Linked DNA regions of Homo sapiens: all the other regions are linked to region 2. The links come from fine-mapping of genetic effects on gene expression. A gene starts in region 2. Each other region holds a variant in brackets. All regions are shown on one strand. Distances are between the middles of the regions.

The links.
Region 1: its variant is fine-mapped to the expression of METTL16 in whole blood (INTERVAL, PIP above 0.99).
Region 3: its variant is fine-mapped to the expression of METTL16 in thyroid (GTEx, PIP above 0.99). The same link has a PIP of 0.9 or more in unexposed skin and whole blood.

What each region holds. Positions count from the first base shown.
Region 1 is chr17:2,405,075-2,411,306 of GRCh38, forward strand. It overlaps LOC284009 (a long non-coding RNA gene), which reads right to left. Exons shown (of 3, transcript NR_028335.1): 3 at 1,907-2,156. Among named protein-coding and RNA genes, the nearest start is that of MNT, 7.1 kb to the left of the region's middle. The variant G/A (reference allele first, on the strand shown) is at 3,568.
Region 2 is chr17:2,508,828-2,515,059 of GRCh38, forward strand. METTL16 (methyltransferase 16, RNA N6-adenosine) reads right to left here and starts at 3,061. Exons shown (of 10, transcript NM_024086.4): 1 at 2,932-3,061. RefSeq lists enhancers at 2,932-3,141, 3,212-3,261.
Region 3 is chr17:2,413,301-2,419,375 of GRCh38, forward strand. It overlaps METTL16 (methyltransferase 16, RNA N6-adenosine), which reads right to left. Exons shown (of 10, transcript NM_024086.4): 10 at 2,749-6,075. It overlaps LOC284009 (a long non-coding RNA gene), which reads right to left and starts at 2,136. Exons shown (of 3, transcript NR_028335.1): 1 at 1,888-2,136; 2 at 1,095-1,171. The variant A/G (reference allele first, on the strand shown) is at 3,581.

The DNA.
Region 1 (6,232 bases), 100 kb before region 2:
GCTGTCCATCATTGTGAGTTTCTCACGAGAGGGTTTCCGTTTTCAGTCTTCCTCCCCGAGTCTTGTGCACCCCACCTCCCAGTTCAAATTCCATTATGTCCTCCAATTTTTTAATCTTTTATTCTTTTTTTCACCAACCACAATAAGAAGCACCAATTCCCCAATTTTTTAATATGCTGAGCCAGAGACATCCCCTTAGTGGAACTGTCTTCCTATCCCCCACCACTCACCTAACAAAGTATCAACTCCAAGAGCTATGAAAATCAGTGCCCTGACTCCTACAAAGCCTGAGTCATGAGATGGGGGAAAGGGCGTGAAGCCGAAAGTACAGATGTTCACAGGAAATCCCAACCCTTCAAGCCTGATGTCTCATCTTTTGCAAGCAGCTAAGGAGCTTTTCACATACCATCATTAAAACAAGACCCATGGGAGGAAGCTGGCTGCAGGATGAAGAGGAAAAAACAGAAGACTAGTACACTCAAGACATACCAGAGAAGATCCATTTCATAAATATTTATTGTGTGCCTGAGGTGCCAAGCACTAGGCTAGGTATGCTGTGGCCAAGGCCAGGGGACCTCTGGTAAGCCAGAGCGGGGCAAAAGCAAACAGAGCGGAACTCCACTCCACTGTGATAACTTGCAAAAGATTAGTTCTGCTGTTCGCCACCGTGCTGGATGCAGCACCAGAGACAGGACGACACGAGGACCCAGAGGGCGCCGCCATGCTCATTTCAGAAGGTGCAGCCTCCGTGTCCGTGGGTCCGCACCCATGGAGGCAACTAACCGTGGATCAAAAATATTCAGGAAAAAAAAATGGAAAATATACAAGAAAAAATAATACAAATTTAAAAACCAACACAGCACAAGAACTATTTACACAGCATTTACATGGTATGAGGTATTTGAGTAGCGCAGAGATGAGTTAAAGGATACCTGAGGATGTGCATAGGTTACATGTAAGGGATTTGAGCATCATCCATGGACAGGTATTCAGGGAGGCTCCAGGAACCAATCCCCATTGGACAGTGAGAAGCAACTGTAATTCCGTTTTTCTATGTAGAGATAAAAACAAATTCAGTGGATTTAAGGCTGGGCCAGTCAACTGAGCCTGATTCCCCCAGTCTGAATGATGAGTGGGACTCTGAATTCCTTTGACAGAGGTGGACCCATTCAATCATCAGTGAAATGGGGTCCCCACAGCCAAAAGTTTCCACAGGACTCTTTACCTCCTTTCCCCACCCCAAGTGAGTTGTCAGAGGACCTCTCCTGAACTCACAGAACAGGTCCAATCAAGTTCCACCTCCCCATTCATGTCCTTTCCAGAAGCTGGGCGCGGTGGCTCACGCCCTAAGTTCCAGCTACGTGGGAGGCTGAGACAGGAGAATCGCCTGAGCCCAGGATTTCAAGGCCAGCCTGGGCAACATAGCAAGATACTGTCTCAAAAAAAAAAAAAAAAAAATTGCAGCCTCACATGATGTCATAGCTGGAAGAGCTGGGATCATGGGGTCTGACCTCCCAAGAGAAGGTGTATCCAAGGTCACAAAGCTGCCAAGCATCAGCTAGGTTGAGAAGTGGCCTGGTCCTCCTCTTTGGCTGGCTGGGCCAGGCCTGGGGAAGTGCTATCAGTGTGGGGTGTTGAGTCCCTGAAAGCCTCCCAGAAGTGGGTGAAGATGGAGAGGGAACTCCACCCCTCCTCGTTAAAGACAGGAATAATCATTCACTTTGCTTAGTGGTCCCCAATAAACAAGCTTAGCAGATAAGCGGGAAGACAGGGAAAGGGAATCAGACTTGGGATCCAGGAGCTCGCAGGACCCTGTTCTGCCCCAGGCCACTCAGGAATGGAGAGCTGCTAGCTGGACCTGGGTAGGTCACCATTACTCACTGGGGCTTTTGTCTGGCATGAAAGGTGACGGGAGAAAGGGGCAGATTTTTATCCAGGCAGCCACCGTGGGTGTGGACACTGAGTAATAAGGAAAGAAATGCAGTTCAGAAGCAAAGAGGGAGGAGCCAGGTCCTCTGAGCTCTTCTGAGAAACCAGAGCCCAGTCGAGCTCTGCAGCTAGAGTGGCAGCTGCGGATGACAGTGGGTCAGAAGCTTGGTGGGAGGAGGCTGACCCAGCGGAAAGGCACAGGAGACGGATGACGATGTCAGGGATTCCTTTAAAGGAAAAAAGAGGTGGCTTTATGACAGCAAAACTAATTCAGGTCAAGGGAGTGGGACTGGGCAGAAGTTATGAGTAAAGCCGGGTGGAGTCTTGCCATGGGAGTCAAGAGTCCGCTGGATCACGCAGGGGTGGGGACATGGTGATAGGGAAGAAACCTCCCAGGACCGACGGGCTGCAATGTGATCAGTGCCCCACACAAAGGACTAAGGTCTATATCCCAGCAGCCCCAGTTCACACCCAAATGCAAGGCTGTAGCATCAAGTCTTGAAAGCCCAAGAGATCAGCAGCCTATGCCAGGAATGAGGCTCTCTCTGGAGGCAAGGCCGAGAGCAGTGGCCGGTCACTGGCTGCACAGCCCAGAGCAGATACCACAGAGCCAGGGCTCAGCTCCAGGTGCACTATGAGATCTCTCCCCAAGGCCCCAGGGCCCACTGGGAAAGGACACACCACTGCTGCCCAGCCTGCTCCACTCCCTGTGCCATCAGGGACACCTCAGTGGGGAGTGCTAGAGCTTCCCAGCGCCCTCTCTGATGAGTTAGTCTGAAATAATGCTGAACCACTGGTAAAAGACAGGTCCTTAAACTTCACACCATACAGCAATGTAAATTCAAATGCTAAATGTAAAAAATAAAACTAAAATAGCCATAATAAAATATAGGAAAACATTTTTCAGCTCTAGGGTGGTGAAGGAGTTTCTACCCATAAAGGCAAACAAAGAAAATATAAAAGCACAGTGTGATAGATTTGATTACCTCTAAAAGCTATAAAAATAAAACAAAATCATCACTAAAGAAAAGAAAAAGGGGCCGGGCACAGTGGCTCATGCCTGTAATCCTAGCACTCTGGGAGGCCGAGGCGGGCGGATCACGTGAGGTTGGGAGTTCGAGACCAGCCTGGGCAACATGGTGAAACCCCTGTGTCTACTAAAAATACAAAAAAGTACCCGGGTGTGGTGGTACATGCGTGTAATCCCAGCTACTCTGGAGGCAGAGGCACGAGAATTGCTTGAACCCGGGAGGCGGAGGTTGCAGTGAGCCGAGATTGCACCACCGCACTCCAGCCTGGGGCGGGGCTGGGGGGTATGGGGAGAAAGAGCAAGACTCTGCCTCAAAAAAAAAAAAAAAAAAAAAAAAAAAAAAAAAAAAGGCCGGGCACAGTGGCTCACGCTTGTAATCCCAGCACTTTGGGAGGCCGAGGTGGGCGGATCACGAGGTCAGGAGATCGAGACCATCCTGGCTAACACGGTGAAACCCCGTCGCTACTAAAAATACAAAAATTAGCCGGGCGTGGTGGCATGCACCTGTACTCCCAGCTACTCAGGAGGCTGAGGCAGGAGAATCACTTGAACCCAGGAGGCGGAGGTTGCAGTGAGCCGAGATCACACCACTGCACTCCATCCTGGGC[G/A]ACAGAGCGAGACTCCATCTCAGGGAAAAAAAAATCACAATGGGGCCAAGCGCAGTGGCTCACACCTGTAATCCCAGCACTTTGGGAGGCCGAGGCGGGCGGATCACGAGGTCAGGAGATCGAGACCATCCTGGCTAACACGGTGAAACCCCGTCTCTACTAAACAAAATACAAAAAATTAGTCGGGCGTGGTGGCGGGCGCCTGTAGTCCCAGCTACTCGGGAGGCTGAGGCAGGAGAATGGCGTGAACCCGGGAGGCGGAGCTTGCAGTGAGCCGAGATCGCGCCACTGCACTCCAGCCCGGGCGACAGAGCGAGACTCTGTCTCAAAAAAAAAAAAAAAAAAAAAAAAAAAAAAAAAAAAAAAAAAGAAAAGAAAAAGGAAAGTGAAAACCAGAAAATCCAAATTTCCGACTAGTAACGGCTAGCTGAAGCAATGCTCACAATACTGACAGCATGTGAGGAAAACAGGGTTGCTACTATTAGCAGGGCTTGTCGCTGGGCAGTGTGGTTACCACTAATTTTTATTTGTACAAGTTTTCTGAAACATGTTAACTTTATAATAAGAAAAAAGTTATATTACTAAATGAAAAAGATTATAAAACACTAAGATACCATATGATCCATAATTTCTATGTAAAAAATATGCATATAAAATAGACAACAAAATGTAAAATAATTTGATTTGAATAGTAGAATTCTAGTGTTATTCAATATTTTCTAAAATTTTTCTCAGACAGGGTCTCACTCTGTCGCCCAGGCTGGAGTGCAGTGGTGTGCTCACAGCTCACTGCAGCCTTGACCTCCCTGGCTCAAGTGATCCTCCTACCTCAGCCTCCTGAGTATCTGGGACTACAGGCGTGCACCACCACACCCGACTAATTTTTTTATTTTTTGTAGAGATGGTATTTCGCCATGTTACCCAGGCTGGTCTTGAACTCCTGAGGTCAAGCGATCCATCCACCTCAGCCTCCCAAAGTGCTAAGATTAAAGGTGTGAGCCACAGTGCCCAGCATTTCTAAATTTTTTATAATGAAAATGTACTGCTTTTTTTTTTTTTGAGACGGAGTTTCACTCTTGTTGCCCAGGCTGGAGTGCAATGGCGTGATCTCGGCTCACCGTAGCCTCTGCCTCTTGGTTCAGGCGAGTCTCCTGCCTCAGCCTCCCAAGTTGGCTGAGATTACAGGCATGACGCACCATGCCCGGCTAATATTGTATTTTTAGTAGAGATGGGGTTTCTCCATGTTGGTCAGGCTGGTCTCAAACTCCCAACCTCAGGCGATCCGCCCGCCTCAGCCTCCCAAAGTGCTGGGATTACAGGCATGAGCCACTGCATCCGGCCTGTCCTGCTTTTTAAAAATAAAATTGCCGGGCACGGTAGCTCACGCCTGTAATCCCAGCACTTTGGGAGGCCGAGGAGGGTGGATCATGAGGTCAGGAGATCGAGACCATCCTGGCTAACACGGTGAAACCCTGTCTCTACTAAAAATACAAAAAATTAGTCGGGTGTGGTGGCGGGCGCCTGTAGTCCCAGCTACTCGGGAGGCTGAGGCAGGAGAATGGCGTGAACCTGGGAGGCGGGGCTTGCAGTGAGCCAAGATCGCGCCACTGCACTCCAGCCTGTGCGACAGAGCAAGACTCGTCTCAAAAATAAATAAATAAAATAAAATAAAATAAAATAAAATTGTCGGACTAAGAATTAAAAAAACCTGGCTGGGCACAGTGGCTCACGCCTGTAATCCCAACACTTTGGGAGGCCGAGGTGGGCGGATCACGAGGTCAGGAGATCGAGACCATCCTGCCCAACATGGTAAAACCCCGACTCTACCAAAAATTCAAAAATTAGCTGGGTGTGGTGGCGTGCGCCTGTAGTCCTAGCTACTTGGGAGGCTGAGGCAGGAGAATCGCTTGAACCTGGAAGACAGAGGTTGCGGTGAGCCGAAATAGTGCCATTGCACTCCAGCCTGGCGACAGAGCGAGACCCCGTCTCAAAACAACACAACAACAACAACAAAACCTGGAAATTATCAAAGGGGGAAAATGCTGGCCTGTCCTGTATCAGAAAGGGCCTCCCATTTTTTGGGATCTCGCATCTCTTGATCTCAACCAACTCCCCTGCCTGTGGGATCTATTTCCCATTCTACTCTTTCTTTTGAAAGCTTCCAGTTCACTCCCCAAACAAAGCAGATTTCATCTTGTTCTCTGCCCAAAATACCTAAATCTACTCTTTCTACTTCTTTACTCTGAAGCTCCCCGGAACTCGCTGAGGCCATTACAGAGCTCTATCGGGCTGGACTGGGGAGAGGTTTCTAAGGTGGAATTGGTGGGATTTAGTGGAAGACTTTACACCTGGTGGGAAAGGAGGGGGAAGAACAGAGATTTGTCCTCTGGAGAGCTGGGTGGATGGTGAGCAAGGCAACAGGAGAAGCAGGTGCAGACAATCAGAGGAGTTTCACACGGCCATGGGCCGGCGGGTGAGGAATGAGGATGCTGGAAGTTCAGGATGGGTCTGGATCTGGGCACAATGAATGTATGAGGAGTGGTTGAAGAAACTGGCGTGGATGAGGTCAGCCAGCAGTGGGAGAAAGAGCAAGCAGGCCCATGGGTAGACTCCTTCGGACTCCTCCCTTAAGAGGTGGGAAGGACCCTAAAACAGGGAAACAGGC
Region 2 (6,232 bases):
GGCCTTATCTGTCCCTCCAACTTCATTTGTTGCCACTTTCCCCTTCCAGACATACTGGTCTTCTTCCATTTTCTCTGCTGCATGGTAGTCTGTCTCACCATCTCCTATTCTTACTGCCTGTAAGACTCTCCTCAACCTCCCACCATCGCCTTTCACCTCTGAAGGTCCACTAGCTACTCAAATCACACCCTAGGCATCATTTACTCAGGCAGCCTTTCTCTGACCCCACAATCCAATCAGATGCCCATCTACACGCTTTCAAAGCACCCTGTGCTGCTTCTCCCTCAGAGATCTTCAGTTTACTACTGGGTGTGTAATTAATTTGCATATGTCACACATAGACCTGCAACCATATCCATCCTAGTCTTTACTATACCCCCAGCAACCTGTATACAATAAATATTTTTTGAGTAAACAATTCAGAATTTGAGGGGATTAGTAGTCACCTGAAAGTTTTTCAGCATACTGTTACTACATTTTGCCCCTCACACTATGACTAAAAATGACTATATACCTGTCTTAATTTCCTAGCATTGACATACCCTTTACTGACCATCAGGAAAGAGGGGAGCATAAAACTAGGATGGCCCCCAGTTCTCAAGAAAACATCAACTGGGCAAGGTGGTGCATGCCTGTGTTCCTAGCTACTAGGGATGCCAAGGATAGCTTGAGCCCAGGAGTTCCAGTCCAGCCTGGGCCACACAGTGAGACCCTGTCTCAAAATAAACAAATACAAATAATAGACTTTATTAAAAAGAAAATATCCAAAATTAAAGTGTTGGCCGGGCACAGTCGCTCACGACTATAATCCCAACACTTTCGGAGGCCAAGACTGGAGGATCACCTGAGGTCAGGAGTTTGTGAGACCAGCCTGGCCAACATGGAGACCATCCTGGCCAACATAGTGAAACCCTATCTCTACTAAAAATACAAAAATTAGCTGGGTGTGGTGGCATGTGCCTGAAGTCCCAGCTACTTGGGAGGCTGAGGCAGGAGAATCACTTGAATTCAGGAGGCCGAAGTTGCAGTGAGCCAAGATCACGCCACTGCACTCCAGCCTGGTGACAGAGCAACACTCCGTCTCAAAAAAAAAAAAAAAATTAGCTGGGCGTGGTGGTGGGTGCCTGTAATCCCAGCTACTCGGGAGGCTGAGGCAGGAGAATCACTTGAACCCAGGAGGTGGAGGTTGCAGTGAGCCAAGATCGTGCTACTGCACTCCAGCCTTGGTGACAGTGAAACTGTCTCAAAAAAAAAAAAGAAAAAGAAAATGTTCTTTCTTGTGATTCTGGCAAGCAACAAAAAAAAGTAAACTAAGAGTAATTTCTTTAAACTGATGGAAAATATTTTCCCAATTTATGGGGGACATGTGACATTTATGCGGTATTTGTTCCACGCATAGAATGTGTGCTGATCAAGTCAGAGTATATGGGGTATTCACCACTTTGAGTATTTTTTATATCTATGTATTGGTAACATTTCAAGCCCTCTCCTAGCTATTTTGAAATATACATTGTTGCTGACTTTAGTCACCATATCCTAACAGTGACTTCAAGAGACAGTGGCATGTTAGGGCTCTGCCACACATTAAGGAAAATTCTACAGACTACATAGCTGACATCAGTGCACACACAACATAATACTCTGAATATATGTGAAACAAATTAAATTACAGACATGGCAGATTCGATTCATTTCCTACATTATTCAACTTTTCTGGTCAGAACAGATACAGAATGAGTAAATACAACCACTTCTTTTCTAACTAACCTCCCAATATAGGCAATGAGTTCTTAGCTAAATATAACCTATTCTTCAGAGTTTAACTGGGCATCAATTCTTTTTTTTTTCTTCTTGTTGAGACAAGGTCTTCCATTCTGTTGCCCAGAGTGCAATGATGGAATCATAGCTCCCTGCAGCCTCCAACTCCTGAGATCAAGCAATCCTCCCGCCTGAGCCTCCCAAGCAGCTGGGACTACAGGTACAGAGCACTGCACCTGGTTAATTTACTTCATTTTTTGTAGAAAGGGAGTCTGGCTTTGCTACCCAGGCTCTAGCTTCAATTTTCTACACAGAATTTACCCATCTGGCATTCCATATATTTTACTTACTTTAAAAAATCTCCCGTCAGTAAGTTTCAAGAGGGTAAATATTTTGTCTGTCTTGTTCACCGCATATCCCAACGCCTAAAATAGGGCCTAAGAGAGTAGGCACTCAAGTATTTGTTGATTGAAACCACGATAGAACTCTTCCCTGTCTGGACCACCGACACAAAGCACCCTCACTGAGTTTCAAAAAAAGCTCAGCCCATGGACTGGAACTTTTCTTCCCGGTTACTTGAGTCAGTCCAGAAAGCCACAGTTAATAGTAGAACCCTGAGAATGAGGCTTTCCCTTTTTTTTTTTTTCTTTCTCATCTCCATGCTTCTGTTTCCTTGGTTCCTCTTGACCATTAACCCTCTTCAACTACCACTCTCTTGATACACAGCCTGTAAAACAGTCTAAATTCCAATTTCAGAACTTCAAATTCTTTCTGCACAGATCCCTCCCACTTCCACACCAATCTACATCTTCTCTCTTCGCCTTCTCTCATAAATCCGACGTTTCCCACTAGTCCTGCCACTGCCGTTCTTTCCATGCCCTCATTTTATCAGCTCAGTTTGTCTTCCCGCCTCAGTTTTGGATCTCTCTAAACCTCCTAAACACCGGGGAGTCTTTCCTACTTCAGTCCTAGTCTCTATTCTATTCGCCAACTCCTCCCACTCATCCACTCTCAACACCCCCGCGTGCGCACACACAGCCACATCAGGTCTCCCCTCCTAGACCCCGAAGTCGGCACCTCACTAGCCCAAAACTCAAGAATGAGGAACCCGTGTGATCCACGGGTTAAGTGACCCATGATAGTAAATCTGCGTGAGAGATATAAGTGACCCACCTCTGAGGCCGAGGTTCCTGCCAGACGTCGTGTCTGGCGTGGGCCTGTACAACCCTAGAATCTTAAAGCAGCCGCATAGCGAAGCTCCTAGAAACGCAGATGATACGCTCCCAGCGCGCCGCCATCTTGTGAAGCCATCTAGCCTCGTGATTGGACACATCCCTCTCGCGCGACCTGTGGCTGATCTTGAAGAAAGAAGAAACCCTCGCGACACCTGGGGTTTGCTGCTCCTAACAGAAGGCGCGGGGGCGTGGTGACGAGCGGAGTCCTTTGAGGTATGGCAGGAGGAGGACATGCGTTCGAATTCGCGAGAAAACTTATTTAAAAGAAAAAGAAACAAGTTTTCCGGGCCCTGCTGCAGACTTACCTCTCACACTCACTGGGATTGGGCAGGTTATGAAGATGAGGGTACGAGACTTGGGTGTGATGGCGTGCAGTGAGCCCTTTTTGTGCAACAGGTGTGTCCTCAGCCGATGTCTCACTCACTGAATTGTAAGAGATATAAGCCTGTGGGTTGGGGAAGAGTACTCTCGTTTACAGCGAAAGAACTGAGGATCCGGCCGGACGCGGCGGCTCACGCTTGTAATCCCAGCACTTTGGGAGGCTGAGGCGGGCAGATCACCTGAGGTCAGGAGTTCAAGACCAGCCTGGACAACATGGTGAAACCCCGTCTCTACTAAAAATACAAAAATTAGCCGGGCGTGGTGGCGGGCGCCTGTAATCCCAGCTACTCGGGAGGCTGAGGCAGGAGAATCGCTTGAATCCGGGAAGCGGAGGTTGCAGTGAGCCAAGATCGCACCACTGCACTCCAGCCTGAGCGAAAGAGCAAGACTCTGTCTCAAAAAAAAAAAAAAAAGGGGGGGCCTGCCTACGTCCTCGTCGTTAATGTGAACGCTTCTGGCAAACTATTACCATAAAATTGGGAGATAGTAAGGATTAAGGAATGGAGACTTATACACAAGTGAGTACCAGTAGTCACCCAAGGAAAGCTGAGGAGGTGTTTTCATAATCTGTTGTGTAACAAACCGCCCCAAAACGTAAGACTTAAAACAACCACCATTTTACTTGCTCACAGTTCTGCAATCTGGGCTGGGATTAGCCCACCCGTTCTGCTGGTCTTGCCAGTGGTCATAGCAACAAGTGGGGGCTGGTTCCGCTGAAAGAACTGGGTCTCTCTCCCTGTAGTCCAAGTTCTCTCCCTGTCCACGTGGCCTTTCCATGTAATTTGTCTAGCAGAGTAGGATGACATTTTTTTTTTCCCCCGAGATGGAGTTTCTTATTGCCCAGGCTGGAGTGCAATGGCGCCATCTCGGCTCACTGCATGCAACCTCTGCCTCCTGGGTTCAAGCGATTTTCTTGCCTCAGCCTCCCAAGTAGCTGAGTAGCTGAGATTACAGGCGCCCGCCACCATGCCCAGCTAATTTTTTGTATTTTTAGTAGAGACGGGGTTTCATCCTGTTGGCCAGGCTGGTCTCAAACTCCTGACCTCAGATGATCCACCCGCCTCGGCCTCCCAAAGTACTGAGATTACAGGCATGAGCCATCGTGCCCCGCCAGAATACTTCTTACATGTTGGCTCGGGGCTCCCAAAAGGGCAAAAGTGGAAGCTGCCAGGCCTTCTTAAAGCGTAGGTGCAGAACTAGCACCTTGGCTATATTCTTGGTTAAAGCAAGTAGAAGGGCTAGCCCCAATTCAAGGGGAGGGGACTATGCCAGGGTCCCTTCCAATACTGGAAGGCATGGTTCATTTCAGCAACCAATGTAACATATTACCACAGAAAGTTTTCCATCTTTGGTTGGTAGTGGCTTTGATACTAGTTATGGCATTTTATTTAGTGCATGCTGCTGGAAAGGTAAAAGAAAAGATGGCCTCGGAGATAGGACTGGTGGGGTTGAAGTGATTGTATTTAAGATATTGGTAACTTTCTGTTAGCTCCAAAGAGCAACCCAGTTTACCTGTAGGTCGGGCCAGAGAGACCCTAGTAGCACTGCAGCTGGGAAACCTGGCCTTTAATCCTGCCCCCACCATTTACTAACCCTGTGAGTATGGGCAATTTGCTTAAACACTTGAAGGCTTAGTTTGCTCAATATTACAAAATAGGATAATAATCTCATGGGGTTGTGAGAATTAAATCAGATAATGCATATAAAACAGCAGAATGTCTAGTATATAGTGAGTTCCTAATAATAATAATATTGTTCCTTATAACTTCTCTGGTCAGTTTTTTTTAAGTATTCCATAAAGATAAAACATTTTAATAACTGAAAATTTTTAAATAATTTAAATAATACATAAAGATATCAGAAAGACAAAAATTATCTAAAATCTCACCACTCACAGCCAAGCACCATCAAATTTGGGTAACCTTACTACTAAACCTCTATATCTCATAAGGATATATAACCAAATAATTTTTATACAAATAATAATATATATTTGTATATATATGTAATTACATATATATACACACACACACATGCACATATACTCAAATATAACTCTTGGAGATTCTTCCACTTCCAACAATATAGCTCTTTATTGTTCTTTGTGATAGGTGCACAGTATTCCATTGAATGCATATAACACTTTTTTTTTTTTTTTTGAGACAGAGTCTCTCTGTCGCCCAGGCTGGAGTGCAGTGGCGTGATCTCGGCTCACTGCAACCTCCACCTCCTAGGTTCAAGCGATTCTTCTGCCTCAGCCTCCCGAGTAGCTGGGATTACAGGTGCCCACCACCACGCCTGGCTAATTTTTTTGTATTTTTAGTAGAGACAGGGTTTCACCATGTTGGCCAGGTTGGTCTCGAACTCCTGACTTCGTGATCCACTCGCCTCGGCCTCCCAGAGGGCTGGGATTATAGGCCTGGGCCACCGCACCCAGCTGGATATACCACTTTTTAAAAAACTAATTCGTGCCCAGGTTGGGTTGGCCAGACCTATAATCCCAGCACTCTGAGAGGCGAAGGCAGGTGGGTCACTTGAGGTCAGGAGTTTGAGACCAGCCTGGCCAACATAGTCAAACCCCGTCTCCATTAAAAATACAAAAATTAGCTGGGCGTGGTGGCGGGCACCTGCAATCCCAGCTACTCGGGAGGCTGAGGCAGGAAAATCGCTTAAACCCGGGAGGCAGAGGTTGCAGTGAGCCGAGATCGCGCCATTGCACTCCAGCCTGGGCAACAGAGTAAGACTCCATCTCAAAAACAAACAAACAAACAAACAAACAAACAACAACAAAAAAAAAACTAATTCCCCTGTGGATGGACATAGGTTCTTTCCAATGTATCTGGTATGACCTATTCCCA
Region 3 (6,075 bases), 96 kb before region 2:
GGTAGCATAATTTTTTTTTCTCATTCTGTCCCCCAGGCTGGAGCACAGTGGCGCGATCTCGGCTCACTGCAACCTCCGCCACCCGGGTTCAAGCGATTCTCCTGCCTCAGCCTCCCGAGTAGCTGGGATTACAGGTGTGAGCCACCACGCCCGGCTAATTTTTGTATTTTTAGTAGAGACGGGTTTCACCATGTTGGCCAGGCTGGTCTCAAACTCCTGACCTCAGGTGATCCACCCGCCTCGGCCTCCCAAAGTGCTGGGATTACAGGCGTGAGCCACTGCATCTGGCCCCAACATGTACTTTCACTAGATATTTTATTTTGCGCTTTCACTAACTACTTAATTATCTGCACTACTGCCAAATACAAAGTTCCGTGAAGATTTGGTAGCATAAATGAAGAATTCTAAGTAATTCCACTGACTACATGTCACTCGTTCATCATAGGCTGGAAAATAATATTACCTTGAAGTGCTAAACTGTGAGGGTGAAAGATGCTTTTTTCCTTCCCCGTGTTGTATCACTGCAGCCCCCTCCCTAGAGGTGGGTCAGACGAGCCTGGAAGTACATTTCCACATGAAGTGCGGCACTTGCTATAGACTTTTGAGTTCCGGCACAAGATCCCAGTCTTGGCTTCTTGGACCTGAGTTCGAATCCCATTTCTATGACTGAGCTCCGTGGATAACCTTACAGCAAGTCACTGACACTCTCTGAGCTTCCCTTTCCTTCAGCCACCACCTAGGAACGTCACACAGGCTGACGGGGTTACTAAATGAGACAGTGTGTGTGGAAGGTGGACCATCAATATTGGCCCCCAGTCCTCCCTCCATCACATCAAGTATGGGTTTTGCTCTTTGTCAACGGTGGTACTTTACACCTACAGACATACACGTGAGGTCTCAGCCTTTTCATCTGAGTCTACTGGTAGAAGGTTTTCTGAATGGAAATGGACAATTCAAAGAATCGGAAGAGGAGCAAGTGTTTCCACCCTCTGCTGAGATTTCAGTCCTTCTTGCACTTAAGCACTGCTCTAAATGTGAAGCGACAATTCCTCATCTGTGGCACGAGGAAGACAAGGCTTAGTAAACGGACTTACCCTGTGCAAGGAATGGAACTGGACGGGAACCCAGGTCTGAACGTCGAAGTCTGTGCTCTTTCCTGCCTCTTGCTCCCCTAGGGTGGGTGGAAAAGAGTCTTGGGTTTACACCTGCCTGGCCCTCTCAGAGCACCATTTGCGAGCCAGTTCTGCCAAGTCCGACTGTACTTTTCCTCTACCCCTTCTCCTTTCAGTTCCCCTGTGAGGGAAGCACCCACAATCTTCCTCTTCCCTAAGGAAACCCACGCTTCTGCTTGGATTGAGACCGGCAGACAGGCTACATCTCAAAGGGCACCTCGAGGGGCAAGGGCGTTCTGTAGTCACAACACAGTCCGTGGAGTACAAAGCACAGCCTCCACCAGGCAGCATTAGCTGCTCCAACCAGGAATTTAAAACACCAACCGCTGTTTTAGTCATTTGGCTGAGCCACAGCAGAGCATGTGAATGTCACAGAACAGAGCAGGAACGCCGGGGCACGTGTGATGCCCATCATCAGTGGGGCAGGCGCCGTCCGGGCCTCTGATACTGCGCTGGCACTCATACCGAGAGCCGCGTACTCGGGATTACTAGAGAGGTTCGACACATCAGTGCTGCCCGCAGGAGGCAGGAGTCAGTTCATTCTATTCAGCCTCTTCTGGGTTTTACCGAGGTTAGTGCCCATTCAGCAAACCAAGTCTCCTGTGCACCAACTTCCCTAAAAAGGCCGTGACCCTTTCCTGAGGGGACCCCCTCTATCGCCATAAACCTGCTGCACCTTTGAAATGCTCCTTCTTCCAGAGGGCTCTTGACTTACTTTTCCCACCTGGCCCCTTCTCCTCCTATGTGCACAACTGCTGGGCGGCCACATCTGATCCTGTACCAGAAACATAAGGGGAGACGGGATCCTCCTTGAGCCCACACAGACCCCAGCGTTCTCCCCAGAAACGCCCCTTGTGAGAAGCAAGGCCGGCTAACCGACAGCATCTACACCACACAGAACCCTCACCTTCTGATATAAGCAACACACGACATGCATGGTAGCCAGCCAACCAGAGGAACCCCAAACAAGGGTCAACAACAGAACACTGAACCCAGCTGCTTTTTTTTTTTTTTTTTTTTTTTTTTTTTGAGACTGAGTCTTACTCTGTTGCCTGGGCTGGAGTGCAGTGGCACGATCTTGGCTCACTGCAACCTCTGCCTCCCGGGTTCAAGCGATTCTCCTACCTCAGCCTCCTGAGTAGCTGGGATTACAGGCATGCACCACCACGCCCAGCTCATTTTTGTATTTTTAGTAGAAACAGGGTTTCACCATGTTGGTCAGGCTGGTCTTGAACTCCTGACCTTGTGATCTGCCTGCCTCTGCCTCCCAAAGTGCTGGGATGACAGGCGTGAGCCACCGCACCCGGCCTTCTGAACCCAGCTGCTTTCTTGGAGATCTTGGTATTACTCCTGGCTTTTGGAAAGTTACTGTTTGAAGATCACTCAGCATTTCCCCTCCAGTATCTTCATTAACTAGATATCAAGAAAAACTGGATCCAAAGGACTGGCCCAACCTGGATATATTCTAGAGTAGAAGGACAGCTGGAAAGAACAGAAAAAACAGTCAGCTGGGACCATTAAAAAAACATTAAAAAGTCGAAAGGGATTATACCAGGTAAAGAGACCATGGCTAGTGTTTTTTTCTCTTTCTACTTTTATTTTTCAAATTTTATTTCTGTGAAAATGTATTTGTTTACATAAAAATACAAATCTGGGTAGCAACTGGGTATTTCAAGAAAACACCGTGGACAGACTTGTCTCCATTCCCACGGGGAAGTGAAGGCGCTTTGATAAAAGGGCCAAGGGTGCCCTCGTGTGGCCACGGAGGGAAATGCCGCGGCTTCAGCAGAAAGGAGGGGCTCCAGGAGCTGGTCGTGAAGTCATCAGCTCCCTTCTTTCAAAAGGCCTCGGATTTCCCACAGGCTTTTCCATCTTTTCCACTCCTTGCAGTTTTGTTATTCCTGTCACAACTTAGAAGTTCGAGTGCTCACATGGTAAGCTTTGATTTCCATCGAGAGGAAAGGCTTTATGTTTTATAAAAAATATATACTAAAGTAATCTACACGAAGCTTAGGATGAGTTGAAAGGGTACTGCCAAAACGCGGCCCTGCCCAGGACACACAGCAGAGGTCTGGAGTGGGGACAGTGCGGCCAGCATGTGTGGGGAAGGAAGCAGGCTGACGGAGGCAAAGCAGATTCCGAAGAACAAAAGCAGCTTTAGTTTGCCTGGGCAACAGGCTCAACTTCTGTCTCCACTTCAGTTATCAGGAGACCAGAAGCCGATTCTAGGGACCAGAAGAGAATGTAGGGTCACATCACCAAGATTTAATTTCATACCAACCCCGCAACATGAATGTGACCTCTGGACACCGGGAGAGTAACACTCAAGGTTATGACATATGAGTCAATAACCCATTTCTTCAAAGAAAAACTTGCCCACCTGTACCAGAGGTATATGCTATGAAACA[A/G]CACACAATTATAAAGCATATGCATGACCAAAACAATGCTTAGATGTCCTTTAAAAATATTTTCAATGTTCTCTCACTAGGTAGCCTAAGAAAATCTTCTCAGGGAAGGAAATGGAAACATCCAAATGCACAGAAGGCACTCGGCTCCAGACTGAAAGCTGGCCTGCTCATGGGTTCCTTTTTTTTTTTTTTTTTTTTTTTTTTTGAGACAGTCCCACTTTGTCGCCCAGGCTGTAGTGCAGTGGCATTCTCGGCTCACTGCAACCTCCACCTCCCAGGTTCAAGCGAGTCTCCTGCCTCAGCCTCCCGAGTAGCTGGGATTACAGGCACGTGCTATCATGCCCGGCTAATTTTTGTATTTTGAGTAGAGACGGGGTTTCGCCATGTTGGCCAGGCTGGTCTCAAACTCCCGACCTCATGCGATGCGCCCATCTCAGCCTCACAGTGCTGGGATTACAGGCGTGAGCCACTGCGCCTGGCCACGGTCACGGATTTTTTAAAACTCTAAGGTCATTAGCTTGACATCTATAAAATCTCCTCCATGACATGAAGCCTTAAACCTAGGGACAGAAACACACTGAGACACAGAAACACCTTCTGTGCTTCAATACACAGAGCATTCTCTGGAAATCCCTACGACACAGGCTTAAAGGCCAGTGCTGTGCCTGAAAGACATTTTGAACAGGCAAGGAGTGTAAGCTAATACACTACTGTTACAACATGGACAAATACTTGTAAGATGTTAAATGAACAAAGGACCAGAATACAAAACTGAATACGCAGCATGAGGACAACCAAAGTTAAACCCACACACTCACACACCCCGTCTACAGAGAGACTAGAAAGGAACACGCCAATGCCAAGAGTGGTTATGTTACAGAAGGTTGGGACTCGGGGTGATTTTGTTGTTTTGACTTTCATTTTTCCAAATCTTTAATGAGCATGTGCCACTCTTTCATAATGAAACAAGCAAACAATAAGTACTTACTACTTACTGAATGAATAGTTGCCACTTAAACAATTATCCTAAAATTATACCAAGGAAACTAGGTTTGGGCCCAGCAAATGACTCAAATGTAATATTCACTCGAGGTAAGGACAGTGGGGTGGTGTGGGCTGGCACAGCAGAAAATTTCTAGACCAGGGGAATCCACGGTCCTGAATTGAGTCTTGGCTCTGTGTGACCCTGGGTATTGTTTTTTGCAGCCTGACACATGAATGCTTGGACTAGAATAATGATTCTTAATCCTTAGTGGGTTATTGACCCCTTTGTCTGTGTCTGAGGGTTCTGGGAACCCTCTCTCCAGGAAAAAAAATACACACACACACACACACACACACACATGCTCACAGAGCTTTTAGAAGTAACTCTAGGAGGTACATGGACTCTCTGGAGGTCCACGGACCAGGTTAAGAACACTGGTCAGAGGCTGGGAGTAGTGGCTCACGGCTGTAATCCCAGCACTTTGGGAGGCCAAGGTGGGCGGATCACCCGAGATCATGAGTTCGAGATTAGCCTGGCCAACATGGTGAAATCCCATCTCTACCAAAAACACAAAATTAGCCAGGCGTGGTGGCGCGTGCCTGTAATCCCAGCTACTTGGGAGGCTGAGGCAGGAGAATCGCTTGAACCCGGGAGGCGGGGGTTGCAGTGAGCTAAGATCGCACCACGGCACTCCAGCCTAGACAACAAGAGTAAAACTCCACCTCATAACAAACAATCAATCAAAAAGCCACTGGTCAGTATGCTGCCTTCTCCAGCTCCAGCTCCACAGCCAAGTTAAGGCACAGCAGTTCCGCTTCCTGTGTCTCTGCCGAGGGCCTGATCTAGCTGCTGCCAAGACATGCCAAGGTCACCAGCTTCCCGTCCTGACCAACAGCCACCTCTCAGAAGGCTGGCTTAACTACTCAGCCCCAGTCTTCTTAGCAGATGGCAAGGAGCTCTGGCCAAGATTTTAGTCTAAACAGAACCCTAGGCTGCTGATGCAACATCAAGCACAGCAAAAGGTCACCCCTTTCCGGGGGGACGGCTACTGAACCCTGGCATTCCAATTAGAAACGTGTTTCAAGGACACAGTTACTCCGGCCTCAGAACTCTCCAATGTGAGTAGGTAAGTACAGGGGGGATTACAAGTGAAGCCACAAAAAAACAGTATTTGATCAGCAACAAAATATCTGAGACTTTCTTAAGCTACCTACGGCACATACTATTTTGTTCTATTTCTCATTTCTATCATCAGCCGCTCACTCAGCTAACCCCAGGATTCAAATAGGACCGCTGGTTTTTAATTTGTGAATATTCTTATTTAAAAACAAAACAAGCTCTACTTCAGATGTCCAAACAAAAATCACACAGTAGTAAAACTGCTACAAAATGGTACTGTCAACAGGCTGGAGGTGGGGGTATGGGTGCCTTCTGTGTGCCTCAGTCACACCGGGGAGTTTTGCTTACCTAATTCTGCTTCTGAAATAAGCAACATCAAAACAGCCAGGTG